Homo sapiens: one gene and its partners. The protein of the gene in region 3 interacts with the protein of the main gene of each other region in a biochemical or structural test. Each region holds a gene or a part of one and is shown on either strand. Other genes may lie near its edges.

Region 1 (3,825 bases), on a different chromosome or scaffold from region 3:
TTCACACAAAATAACCCACCCCCCCAACAAAAACAGAATTGCCAAAAATGGCACAAATTGTTTGTTTGGCCTTTAAAACCTTATGAAACTCCAAGACTGTGTGCTTAAAGGAGAGATGGGAATATCAGTAATATCTCTATTTGTCCGGACTGCCACTTAAGGAAAGAGGGAGGGGGGACCTTGGCATGACATCGCCCATTGAGAACGAGACCACAAATCTGGTCCTCCTCTTCAAAGGCGTATTTTCTTAACCAAAAGACTGATATAAATTGGGCCCAAACCCCAAAAGAAAATTTCCTGCCCTCTTCCCAAGGAGTTTCTTGCTAAGTCACTGAAGAAAGGTAGCATAACATATAAAGCTATGGTACCTTGCTCTCTCCTACTAAATACGGAAAACCTCTTCCCCTCTACTGCTACGTTTAGAGGTGCAGAGTCAAAATGTGTCGACCACCTCAAAGGCATTTTCTCATGTGGGAGGCTAAAGAGGGTAAATATGCAGAGGCACTGCGTTTCCCAAAGGGGCAGGGAGATGAGATTAGACGAAGGGGAATGGCAGGGAGCCTCGAAGCTGAATGTTAACAGCATCAAAAGGCAACTCCCGACCGAGGAGCCGGTGGCAGAAAGAAAATCCTGCCAGATTCGGTGGGTGGATGCTGCGGATTGCTCGGTGGGCCGGGCTGCCTCTCCTCGGCGGGTGCTGAGGCTGGACCGCCGCACCGGGGGCCAGGGAGACGGTGGGCCACCCTCCGCTGGTCAACCCCATCTTAAGGACCAGTCGGGGACGGAATGCCTGGAAGGCCCTATGAGTGCCCCGGCGGCGCGGGGCTGAGCCGGTCCCCGAGCCGATAACTGAGGGTGGGGTGGGGACTGCGGTGCTCGTCTCCGCGGCCGGGGAGAGCAGGGCCGATCCTTTTCCCCAAGATCAGAGAGCTACCTGGTCCCCACGCCCTTCCAACCCAAGAATACTTTTCTTGCTAAGTCACCGAGGGAGGAGGGCGATCCCTTCTTGGGGAGGGCCGCGGGGCGGGGGTCGCAGAGGCGCCGGCAGCCCCCAAAGCCGGGCCCGGGAGGAGAGGAGCGAGGGCAGCGCCCTCCCCGGACAGTCCCCCTCCTCCGGGTCTCTCACTCAACGGCCGTCGCGGCCGCCATTTTGAGAGCGAGGAGAGAAGAAGAAGGAGGAGGCGGCGGCGGAGGCAGGGGGAGGGGAGAATGGGAGGGAGGGGACCGGCGCAGCCACATCGTCAGGCCGCCGGGTCCGGCCTGCAGCCGCCCGGGCGCGGTGGAGGAGACAGAGGGGAGGGCGCAGACCCGCGCCGCCTTACCGGAGCGCTGCACCGCCGCCTCCGCAGGGCCTCTTCCGTCCTTCACTCCCATCCACCGGCGGGGGAGGGGGAGGGAGAGGGGAGGGAGGAAGGAGGGAGGGAGGGAAGGAGGGGGGAGGATGGCGCGCTGGGCCCGGGCCCGGGGAGGGGGAGGGGAGGGGAGCGGGCGGGCTCCTCAGCCGTTCCGGGGCTCGAGTCCAAGCTCGGCGCTCGCGGTTTCTCTCGCTCGCGCCCGAGCGCTCCCCTCCTTCTCCTTCTCGCTCCCTAGACTCCCGTGTCGCTGCTCCTCCGCTCGCTCACTCGCTCTCCCGGCCGCCGGACTCCGCCGCCGCCCCGCCGCTCCAGCTCCGTCTGTCACAGGAGCTGCCCCAACGCCCTGACGTCACCGCGCCGCCGCCGCCGCCGCCGCCGCCGCCCCAGACCCGCCAGGAAGAGGGAGGGGCGGGCGCCGGGAGCGGAGGAGGGGCTGCGGCGCATGCGCCGGGCTGGGCCGGGCCGGGGCCGCGCTGCCTTCTAGCGGGCGGGCGGCTGAGCGGTGCCACCCGGCCGGCGGGCGAGTCTGCGTGCGAGGTGCTGCTTCTCACGCTCCGCACGCTTCTGTTAACCTTGGGAGAGGCTCTTTTTTCCCAGCCCCTCGTCTGACTTGCGGCCCCTTCTGAACTCTGGCTCTGCTCACCTCGCTGCCCTGCTTTTGCGCTCATGCGGCCGACCGCGGCGTCCCGTTGGCACCGTGTGTGGCGGGCCCCGGGAGGCGCGAGAGGCAGCGGGGCCCGGCCACCTACCGCCCCTTTCTGCCTCCGGCCTCCGAGATGATTTCCCAGTTTGGGGGGGAATGAGGGAGGGGAGTAGGCTGGCTGGCTTGGGAGGAGGAGCTGTTGAGGTTAAAAGGCAGATGGAATGCTGTCATTGTCTTGATTTGTATTATAGATTCTTAATTGGGAGGACTCGCTTTTGGATATGATTCAGCTATTCTTCTCCTTAGTCACACACAGACATCAGAGTCTCTCCAGGTCTCGAAACGGATGCCCAAAGAAAGGCCTGGAACTGTATCCCTATAAGGGATGTCTGTGTGTGTTTGCTAAATTATGGATTGAAATATTGATGACAAGAGTCGTCTTGGGGATTTGTAGTTAATTTATTCCACACAGATACCTATGATTTTTCTTTTCTTTTCCTTTTTTTTTTTTTTTTTTTTTTGAGACGGAGTCTCGCTGTGTCGCCCAGGCTGGAGTGCAGTGGCGCGATCTCGGCTCACTGCAACCTCCGCCTCCCGAGTTCAAGCGATTCTCTGCATCAGCCTCCCGAGTAGCTGGGAGTACAGGCACTTGCCACCACGCCCAGCTAATTTTTGTTTTTTGTTTTTGTTTTTGTTTTTGAGATGGAGTCTCGCTCTGTCGCCCAGGCTGGAGTGCAGTGGTGCAATCTCCACTCACTGCAGGCTCCGCCTCCCGGGTTCACGCCATTCTCCTGCCTCAGCCTCCCGAGTAGCTGGGACCACAGGCGCCCACCACCACGCCCGGCTAATTTTTTTGGTATTTTTAGTAGAGACGGGGTTTCATCATGTTGGCCCGGATGGTCTCGATCCCTTGACCTCGTGATCCGCCCGCCTCTGCCTCCCAAAGTGCTGGGATTACAGGCGTGAGCCACCGTGCTCAGCCGACCCTTGATTTTTAAAAAGCGAGATTTGGGGTTCTGAATAATTCAATATGGGCTATTATTTTAATAACAGGTTTAAATGAGATTATCTTATCATTCATTTGTATTGTCCAAGGAAGCTTTTTTCTTGAAACAGGCTTAAGCTTATGTGTACTGATTTTATTGCGTCACTTTATGTAGGTAAATATATATATATATACTGCATTTGAGAAGCAGCAGAGTTAACGAAAGAGACAACTTAGGTGTAAATCCTGGACCCCGCACTTGCCAGAAGCGCGACCTGGGGCAAATTACCATACCTCTCTTTGGCCTCAGTTTCTCAATAAAAGACACCTAATAACTAACCCGGCTTTTGTGAGAATTACAGAGGAGGTGCAGCCTGTGTAAAGTATCTTAGTTTCGTGGGGACTTATAGGTAACTCATGTAAACATTACTGTTGCTTGATACCAAAACAAGTTTCCTTTGTTCAAGAAAGGTTATCTCTGCCAGGCACAGGTTGCTAACCCCTGTAATCCCAGCAATTTGGGAGGCCAAGGCAGGGATGGGGAGGTTGGGAGGGGGGCCGTGGATCACCTGAGCCAAGGAGTTGGAGACCAGCAGGTGCAACATAGTGAAACCTCATCTCTACAAAAAAATTTTAAAAATTAGCTAAGTGTGGTGGCACATGCCTGTAGTCCCAGCTACTGGGGAGGATGAGATGGGAGGATTGCTCAAGCCCTGGAGATCCAGACCAGCCAGGGCAACAAAGCAAGATCTCATCTCTAAAAACAAAAAAAGAAAAGAAAAACAGCCGGGCGCGGGGACTCACGCCTGCAATCCCAACACTTTGGGAGGCTCAGACAGGTG
Region 2 (3,825 bases), on a different chromosome or scaffold from region 3:
CACACCCAGCTAATATTTGTATTTTTAGTAGAGACGGGGTTTCACCATGTTGGCTAGTCTAGTTTCGAACTCCTGACCTCAGGTGATCCACCTGCCTCAGCCTCCCAAAGTGCTGGGATTATAGGCATGAGCCACCATGCCCGGCCCAGATAGTTTTAAAATTTTATTTGAAGGCATGAAAACAAAACAAATGAAAGCATGTACACCGCATCCCAAGGCCTTTCCATGATCACTGACAACATACTTTCCAGGGGAAAAAAAAAATCAAAATACATTATTTTATTGTTACTGAACAAGTTAAGCTCATCTTAAAAACATTTAACTCAGGCTGGGTGCAGTGGCACACGCCTATAATCCTAGTACTTTGGGAGACCAAGGAGATAAGATCACTTGAGGCCAGGAACTCGAGGCTACAGTGAGCCAAGATTGTGCCGCTGCACTCCAGCCTAGGTGACAAAGTATGACCCTGTCTCTAAAAAAAAAACAAAAATAATAATGATAACTTATTTAGTCTTTAAAACTATACTTTGAGGCAAACACCACCATCCCCATTTCACATATAAAGAAACTGAGGCCCACTGAGCTTAGAGAACTTGCTGTGGCATGGAGCCACTAAAGCCGGCCTGCCTTGAACACCTGCCCTAAGGAAGAATTATCGGTAGCTCTGCCATAGCCGAGGAACCTCTCAGCAGGGTTCTCCAGGAGGGTCTCTAGAGTGCCTGCACCTCTGCCCATCTAACAGGGAGGTTGTCCAGGACAGTCACAGCACTCTGGTTCATGACCAGCCTCTCCTAGTCCCCTCCCTGGCACTCCCACCCCTTCAAAACTAAGTCTTGTATTTTGAAGCCCTACTTCTCTCCTCTACCCACATGGCTGGTCCTCTCCATTAAAAGAAAAGAAAAAGAACTCACACGTGAATTTCTCACCTGAATATATTTAACTCAAGTGGTTTTAAGAAATAATTTTGGGTTCAAATGCCTCTTTGAATTTGTCCTGTCCCTCACTGGTATTTATATATTCTTTAGTAAATTAAACTGTGGCAAACAGAAAGCTTTGGGGGATTGGCTGTAATACTGGTAAACTCAACATGATGTTTCAGAGATAAAAGTAATTTATACATCTAATAATTTATTCCCAAAGATAACACTGTGCTTAAAGAGATCAGGATAATATGCAACATACAATTATCTGATTGTTTGCCTACTTGAATTTTAATGACCACATATACTTGCCTATTTAATTGTATTACTTTTAGCCTTTAGGTTTACAAATAGCAATTTGAAACCTGTTAATTTTCTGATATTCCCTGGTATTAATCTGACCATTTACTGTTTGCCCACAAACGCCAACAAACAATTAGAACTCTCACATTTAGAGCATGCTAACAGAAGCAGTTAAAAATGTGAAGAATCCAGGATAAGACCCAACTGGGACTAAAAGAGTAAGGGTGAAGTCGAACATTAATCGTCAGTAACTTTCTTCCAGTCCTCATGCCAGAGGTCCTGGGCACAAACCTAGTTTCTAGCCATGCACTATTTTTCGTTTCTCCCAACAAAGACCATGTTAGGGGTAAGAAATCTCTTCCAGGTATAAACACCCAAATACCCATGTCTTTCTGCCACACCAAAGGTTTTTCTGACCCCTGAAGACAGAATCAGATAAGGAATCACATCTGTTTCACATTCCAGATCTCATTTTCTTAACAGTGTAAGTAAAAAGAGAATAAACTAGGGAGTCTAGTTGACTTATATGTAATCCTCCAAGAAGAAAAAAACAAGCACAAGGTCAAAAGTAAAAGAAGGCCCAGTGCGGTGGCTCACGCCTGTAATCCCAGCACCTTGGGAGGCTGAGGTGGGAGGACTGCTTGAGCCCAGGAGTTCAAGATTGGCCTGGGCAACATAGGGAGGGAGACCTTACCTCTACAAAAATTAAAATTAAAAAAATTAGCCAGGCATTGTGGTGCACAACAGTGGTCCCAGCTACTCAGGAGGCTTAAGTGGGAGGACTGCTTAAGCCCAGAAGGCTGAGGCTGCAGTGAGCTATGATTGTACCACTGCACTCCAGCCTGAGTGATAGGGTAAGACCCTGTCTAAAAAAAAGATATTCAGCTAACAGTGAAGCACTGTTTTTTAATATCCCACTCCTTTCTTCAGCTTGAAACAGCTTAAGAAAAACTAAACAATAGTTTAGCTTAGTGGGAGCAGGGGTGAGAGGGCAGAAGATTCACTTTTCCTTATATTCCCTTGCGCACTATTTGACCTTTTTACCACATACATGTTATTTCACAATTTAAAAAGAAATACATAATAGAACTAATAAATGAGTTATGCAAGTTTACAGGATATAACATGAATGTGCAAAAAGCAATTAAATTTCTATACTCTAGCTATAAACAATCCAAAAATAATTAAAATTAAGAAAACAATTTACAATAGGATCAAAAACAAATACTAAAAAATAAATTTAACAAAAGAAATACAAAACTTATATTATGAAAAAATATGGGCCAGGCACAGTGGCTCATACCTATAATCCCAGCACTTTGGGAGGCTGAGGCAAGGTGGATGGCTTGAGCCAAAGGGTTAGAAACCAGCCTGGGCAATGCGGTGAGACCCCATCTCTACTAAAAATATAAAGATCAGCTGGGCATGGTTGTGTGTGCCTATAGTCCCAGCTACACAGGAGGCTGAAGTGCAGGACACACTGGGCCAGGGAGGTGGAGGTTGTAGTTAGTGAGCCAGGCACCACTGCACTCCAGACTGGGTGACAGTGGGACAAAAAAAAAAAAAAAGACAGAAAGAAAGAGAAGGAAGGAAGGAAGGAAGGAAGGAAGGAAGGAAGGAAGGAAGGAAGGAAGGAAAACGAACAAAAGAAAAAATATAAAACATTGTTCAAAGAGTTTTTAAAAAGACCTAAATAAGCAGAAAGACAGCCTATGTCCATGGATCAGAAGACATAATATTGTTGACATGCCAATATTCCCTCCCCAAATTGATGTACTGACTCAACTCCACACTCTTGCCAACATGGGGGTATTAAAATCTCAGTAGGCTTCTTTGCAGAAATTGACAATCTGATCCTAAAATTCATATGGAAATGCAAGAGACCCAAAATAGTCAAAACCAACTTGAAAAACAACAAAGTTGGAGACTCACACTTTTCCATCTCAAAAAGTACTACAAAACTATAGGAATCAAGACAGTAATGGCATAAGGATGGACATACAACTCAATGGAATAGAACTGAGTCCGGAAATTAACCTTCACAGTTACAATCAACTGATTTCAACAAAGATGCCAAGACAATTCAATGGGGAAAGAGTATCTTTTCAACAAATGGCGCTAGAACAACTGAATATTCACATGAAAAAGAATAAAGTTGGACTCCTTTCTCATGCCATACACAAAAATTCAAGGCTGGGTACGGTGGCTCACACCTGTAATCCCAGAACTTTGAGAGGCTGAGGTGGGAGGATCACTTAAGGCCAGGAGGCGGAGGTTGCAGTGAGCCACGATCGTGCCACTGCACTCCAGCCTCGGTGACAGAGAGAGACTCTGTCTCTCTCTCTCTCACTCTCTCTCTCTCTCTCTCTCTATATGTGTATATATATATATGTACATATATATATATATGTACACACATACACACCAAACAAAAAAATTAAAAAACAAAAATTAACTCAAAACGGATAGTAGACCTAATGTAAAAGCTAAAAGTTTAAGTCTCCTAGAAGAAAATATAGGCATTAAGCTCCATCACCTTTGGTTAGGCAAACTTTTCTAAATATAACAAGCAAAAAAAAAAAAAAAAGTTGGAATAGGAACT
Region 3 (3,600 bases):
GAAGACAGGAAATAACATAAAAATAAGTAATTTGCATAATATATTTAAAAATGAGAAGTGATAGGGACAAAAGAAAATGCAGACCAGAGCATGGGGGCTTTTGAGTGCAGGCAGAGGGCAGGTGTAAGTGGAGCCCCTGTAGTCACGAGGGGCTCTTGCCTAGGTGACATGTGACAGGACTAGCAGGGACAGGAAAGTCTCAAGTAGGCATCAGAGTTCCAGGTACTCCAGGCAGAGGAATGACTTGGTCCCCCAAGTCTCCATTCCCTTCTCTATAATTGAGAAGATGGGACTAGATGCAATTTTATATCTCTTCCAGCCCTAACATTTGATTAAAAACACGCTGAGGACCTGCCTGGGTGTATTAGTCCATTCTCACGCTGCTGATAAAGACATACCTGACACCGGGTAATTTACAAAGGAAGGAGTTTTAATGGACTCACTGTTCCACATGGCTGGGTAGGCCTCACAATCATGGTGGAAGAAAAAGGAGGAGCAAAGGAATGTCTTACATGGTGGCAGACAAGAGGGCTTGTGTTCAGGGGAACTCCCCTTTATAAAACCATCAGATCTCATGAGACTTACTCACTACCATGAGAACGGTGTGGGGAAAACCACCCCCATGATTCATTTATCTCCACATGGGGATTATTACAATTCAAGGTGAGATTTGGGTGGGGACACAGCCAAACCATATCACTGGGTCAGTCACAGCACTGCTCTGGGCCCTCTTTCAAACCTGTACCAGATTAGGGACTTGGAAGACCTGGGTTTTAGTCTTGCTGCTTAACCAGCCACATTGGAAGCTATGGACAAGCCACTTCCACATATCCAGATTTCCTTTCTTTAGCTGCTAAAATTTTGATAGATTACCTCCAAGATTTCAACTTTTAGAACACGAGTCTAAAATTAATTTCAATTAGCATGTTTTTGCTTTCTGACTCTAGTTAATATGACAGAACTGGCTTCAGTTGGTGTTAAACTGTGTGCCCTATTTCTCCCTTAACTGGCCATAAAAATTTCTGTAGCTATTGAATCCCGATCTCCTTGTGACTAATTGTCCAGCCAGTGATAAGGAGACAGGGAAGTGAACTGGAGTATGTGATACAACGGATGGACTGGCTCCTGGGGGCTTTTGAATCTAATGGGCCAGGTTTGGATCCTGATTCAGCCATTATTTCTAAGCTTTAGACTCCTGGGCAAATTACTTGACCTGTCAGAGTCAGAGTTTCTTCATCTTTATAACTGAGTGTAAAATAATACTTACTTTGCAACAATATCAAGAGAATTAAATGAATCACTACATTAACTGCAGCTGTAGAAGTGGTATCACTACACACTGAAAAATGCTGGCACATCATCAATATTTAGTGTAGAATATGCTGTATTATTATGATTACTCTGATTTCTACAGTAGATGAATATATGTCCTGTTCTACCTATATTTTTTCCTTTACCTGGAAATTAGTGCCTGTAATAAAGTTTAGGTCTTCAGCCTCTTGACTGCTTATAGCAGACAGCAGGAGAATGGGTGGCCTGGAGAATGTACTATGTATGAACACAAGCTCTGCCACTAGCCAGCTGCACCATACTCAGATAAATATCTTCTGAGCCTCAGGGAACTTACCCCGTTTTAATGGGGATGATCATAATTCTACCTCATAGAGTTTTTCTAAGGATTGCATGAGTAAATGCACATTGTAAAATAGGTACAACAGTTCCTGGCAGTGCTTCCATCAGTAAGCACTCAACAGATGTTTGCTACATGGTTCTTCAGGAGCCTTGGATCTGCTATTCATACAGTGTGTAGCTGCATCAAATCTTTCCCTCATGGAGTTGCAATTTCTCCTATACAAATTAAAGAGATAGCAATCACACTCACCCCAGAGGCTTGTGGAAAGGATCACCTTCACAAAAATGTAAGCTGCACAGGGTAAGAATTTTTTTTTTTGGTGACTGTTTTGTTCTTTGTTTTGTCTCCACACACTAAAGCAGTGATTGGCACCTAGTGGAGGTATTTTTGAATGAATGAATCCATCAAATGAGATAATGTAGATAAGAGATGTCATACAAGTTCTGTATAAATGTTGGAGGAGTTCCTTCGTTTTTAGTGCTTTTCTTATATTTCAGTCTGCCTTTTTTTCTTTTTTCAAATAATGGGGGCATCCCCAGGTGTCAGCATCTGGCTGTAAATCACAATTTTCAACACTTTTTAAAAACCTAACTGTAAGGCAGCAAGGCAGGTGTTCCCTTTCACTCCACAGCAAGGAGATTTATGATTGCTCTGAACTTCACGGCATAAACAGATGCTCCTTAGTACCTCCTCCCTCCACTATTGGACATTAATTGTAAACAGTTAACAAGCTGTTAAGTGGCTGCAGTGGCAGCCACCAAGTGGCTCCCTCTGTCCAGTGCCACCACTGTCCTGCTGCTGACGTGTCCCTTCGCTCATGCACAAGACCATGTGGCCAGACAGCCTTAACTCACAGGCCGAGGAGAGCCAGCCTGCAGGGAACCCCTAGGAAAAGTGAGTGGGACCTGCAGGCTCCTAAACATGATACCCAATTACCCTGTGCTGCCTTTTTTCTTTTGAATATTGTACTTTGGTCTGGAGCAGATGGCATGAAGCCAGAGAGACATGCTAATAGCTCTCTCCAGAAAAGTGTGCACAGCCCATCTGTTAGCTCCTTGTGGAAAAAAAATAAAAGATGGGAGGGGAAAAAAAACCTGCCACCAACAGTAGAATCATCAGAGATCACAGCACTTATGCATTGTGGGTTTAATTAGACACCGGGAAAAATGCAGTGAATGTATTGACTAGGACTCATTTACCTTTATGTAGGGCCTTTCTCCCGTCCCAAACCATGCTAGGCAGGGTGGAAAGAGAGAGAGAATAAAGAGTTCCTGCCAGCAGGTGGTTTCTAGTCTCATCAGGGAAGATAGAACAACCAGGCAATTGCAAGGCAGTGTGACAAGTGTCATGATAGAGGTGAGCACAGGGTACTGTGGAAGCCCAGAGAAGGACCAGTGGTGCTGACAGGAGCAAGAAGCCATCCAACAGAGGTGATAGTGAACTGAGTCTCCAAGAGCAAATCAGGGTTAGACAGCACAGAAGCAGGGGGATGGCTTTCCAGGCAGATGGGCCAGCAGAGACAAGAGACAGCAGGTTGGGTTTTGTTTGCAAATGCTGGAGGGCAAGGTGCAGTGAGGATATGGATTGAAGATAGTGATGAAGAGGTGGAAGGAGCTGACCCCCAAGGACGCATAGCCAAGCTAAGACATCTGAGCCTTATACTTAAGACAATGAAGTACCATATATGCATTTAAAAACAGTCCTTCATGGCAGCAAGGAGGGTGGAATAAAAGCAAAGCCAAAAACAGGCTGATGTCAAGAGAGTGAAAACATCCACTCATTCACCAAAATGGGCATCAGGTCTTGGGTGATTGAATCTGTGGGTAGTTCTCCACCTGCAGACCCAGCACCCCCTTCTTATTACAAATATTTGCAATACCTCCTTTCACACCTTGAAATGAATTTCATAGATAATGTAGTCTAGCTACACAATTTTTCAAAATGAATATAATTCTCTAACTGTAGTA

The links.
Region 1: the proteins of DAB1 (region 3) and PAFAH1B1 form a complex in vitro, tested with the Homo sapiens proteins (one study listed by BioGRID).
Region 2: the proteins of DAB1 (region 3) and SOCS7 form a complex in vitro, tested with the Homo sapiens proteins (one study listed by BioGRID).

The regions. Positions count from the first base shown.
Region 1 is NC_000017.11:2,591,504-2,595,328, reverse strand, and holds the start of PAFAH1B1 (platelet-activating factor acetylhydrolase IB subunit beta), read right to left. Parts: upstream 1,676-3,825; 5' UTR 1,323-1,675; exon of another isoform or gene 935-1,322; intron 1-934. UniProt on the Homo sapiens protein: Regulatory subunit (beta subunit) of the cytosolic type I platelet-activating factor (PAF) acetylhydrolase (PAF-AH (I)), an enzyme that catalyzes the hydrolyze of the acetyl group at the sn-2 position of PAF and its analogs and participates in PAF inactivation.
Region 2 is NC_000017.11:38,389,676-38,393,500, reverse strand, and holds part of SOCS7 (suppressor of cytokine signaling 7), read right to left. Parts: intron 1-3,825. UniProt on the Homo sapiens protein: Substrate-recognition component of a cullin-5-RING E3 ubiquitin-protein ligase complex (ECS complex, also named CRL5 complex), which mediates the ubiquitination and subsequent proteasomal degradation of target proteins, such as DAB1 and IRS1.
Region 3 is NC_000001.11:57,018,461-57,022,060, reverse strand, and holds part of DAB1 (disabled homolog 1), read left to right. Parts: intron 1-3,600. UniProt on the Homo sapiens protein: Signaling adapter of the reelin-mediated signaling pathway, which regulates the migration and differentiation of postmitotic neurons during brain development.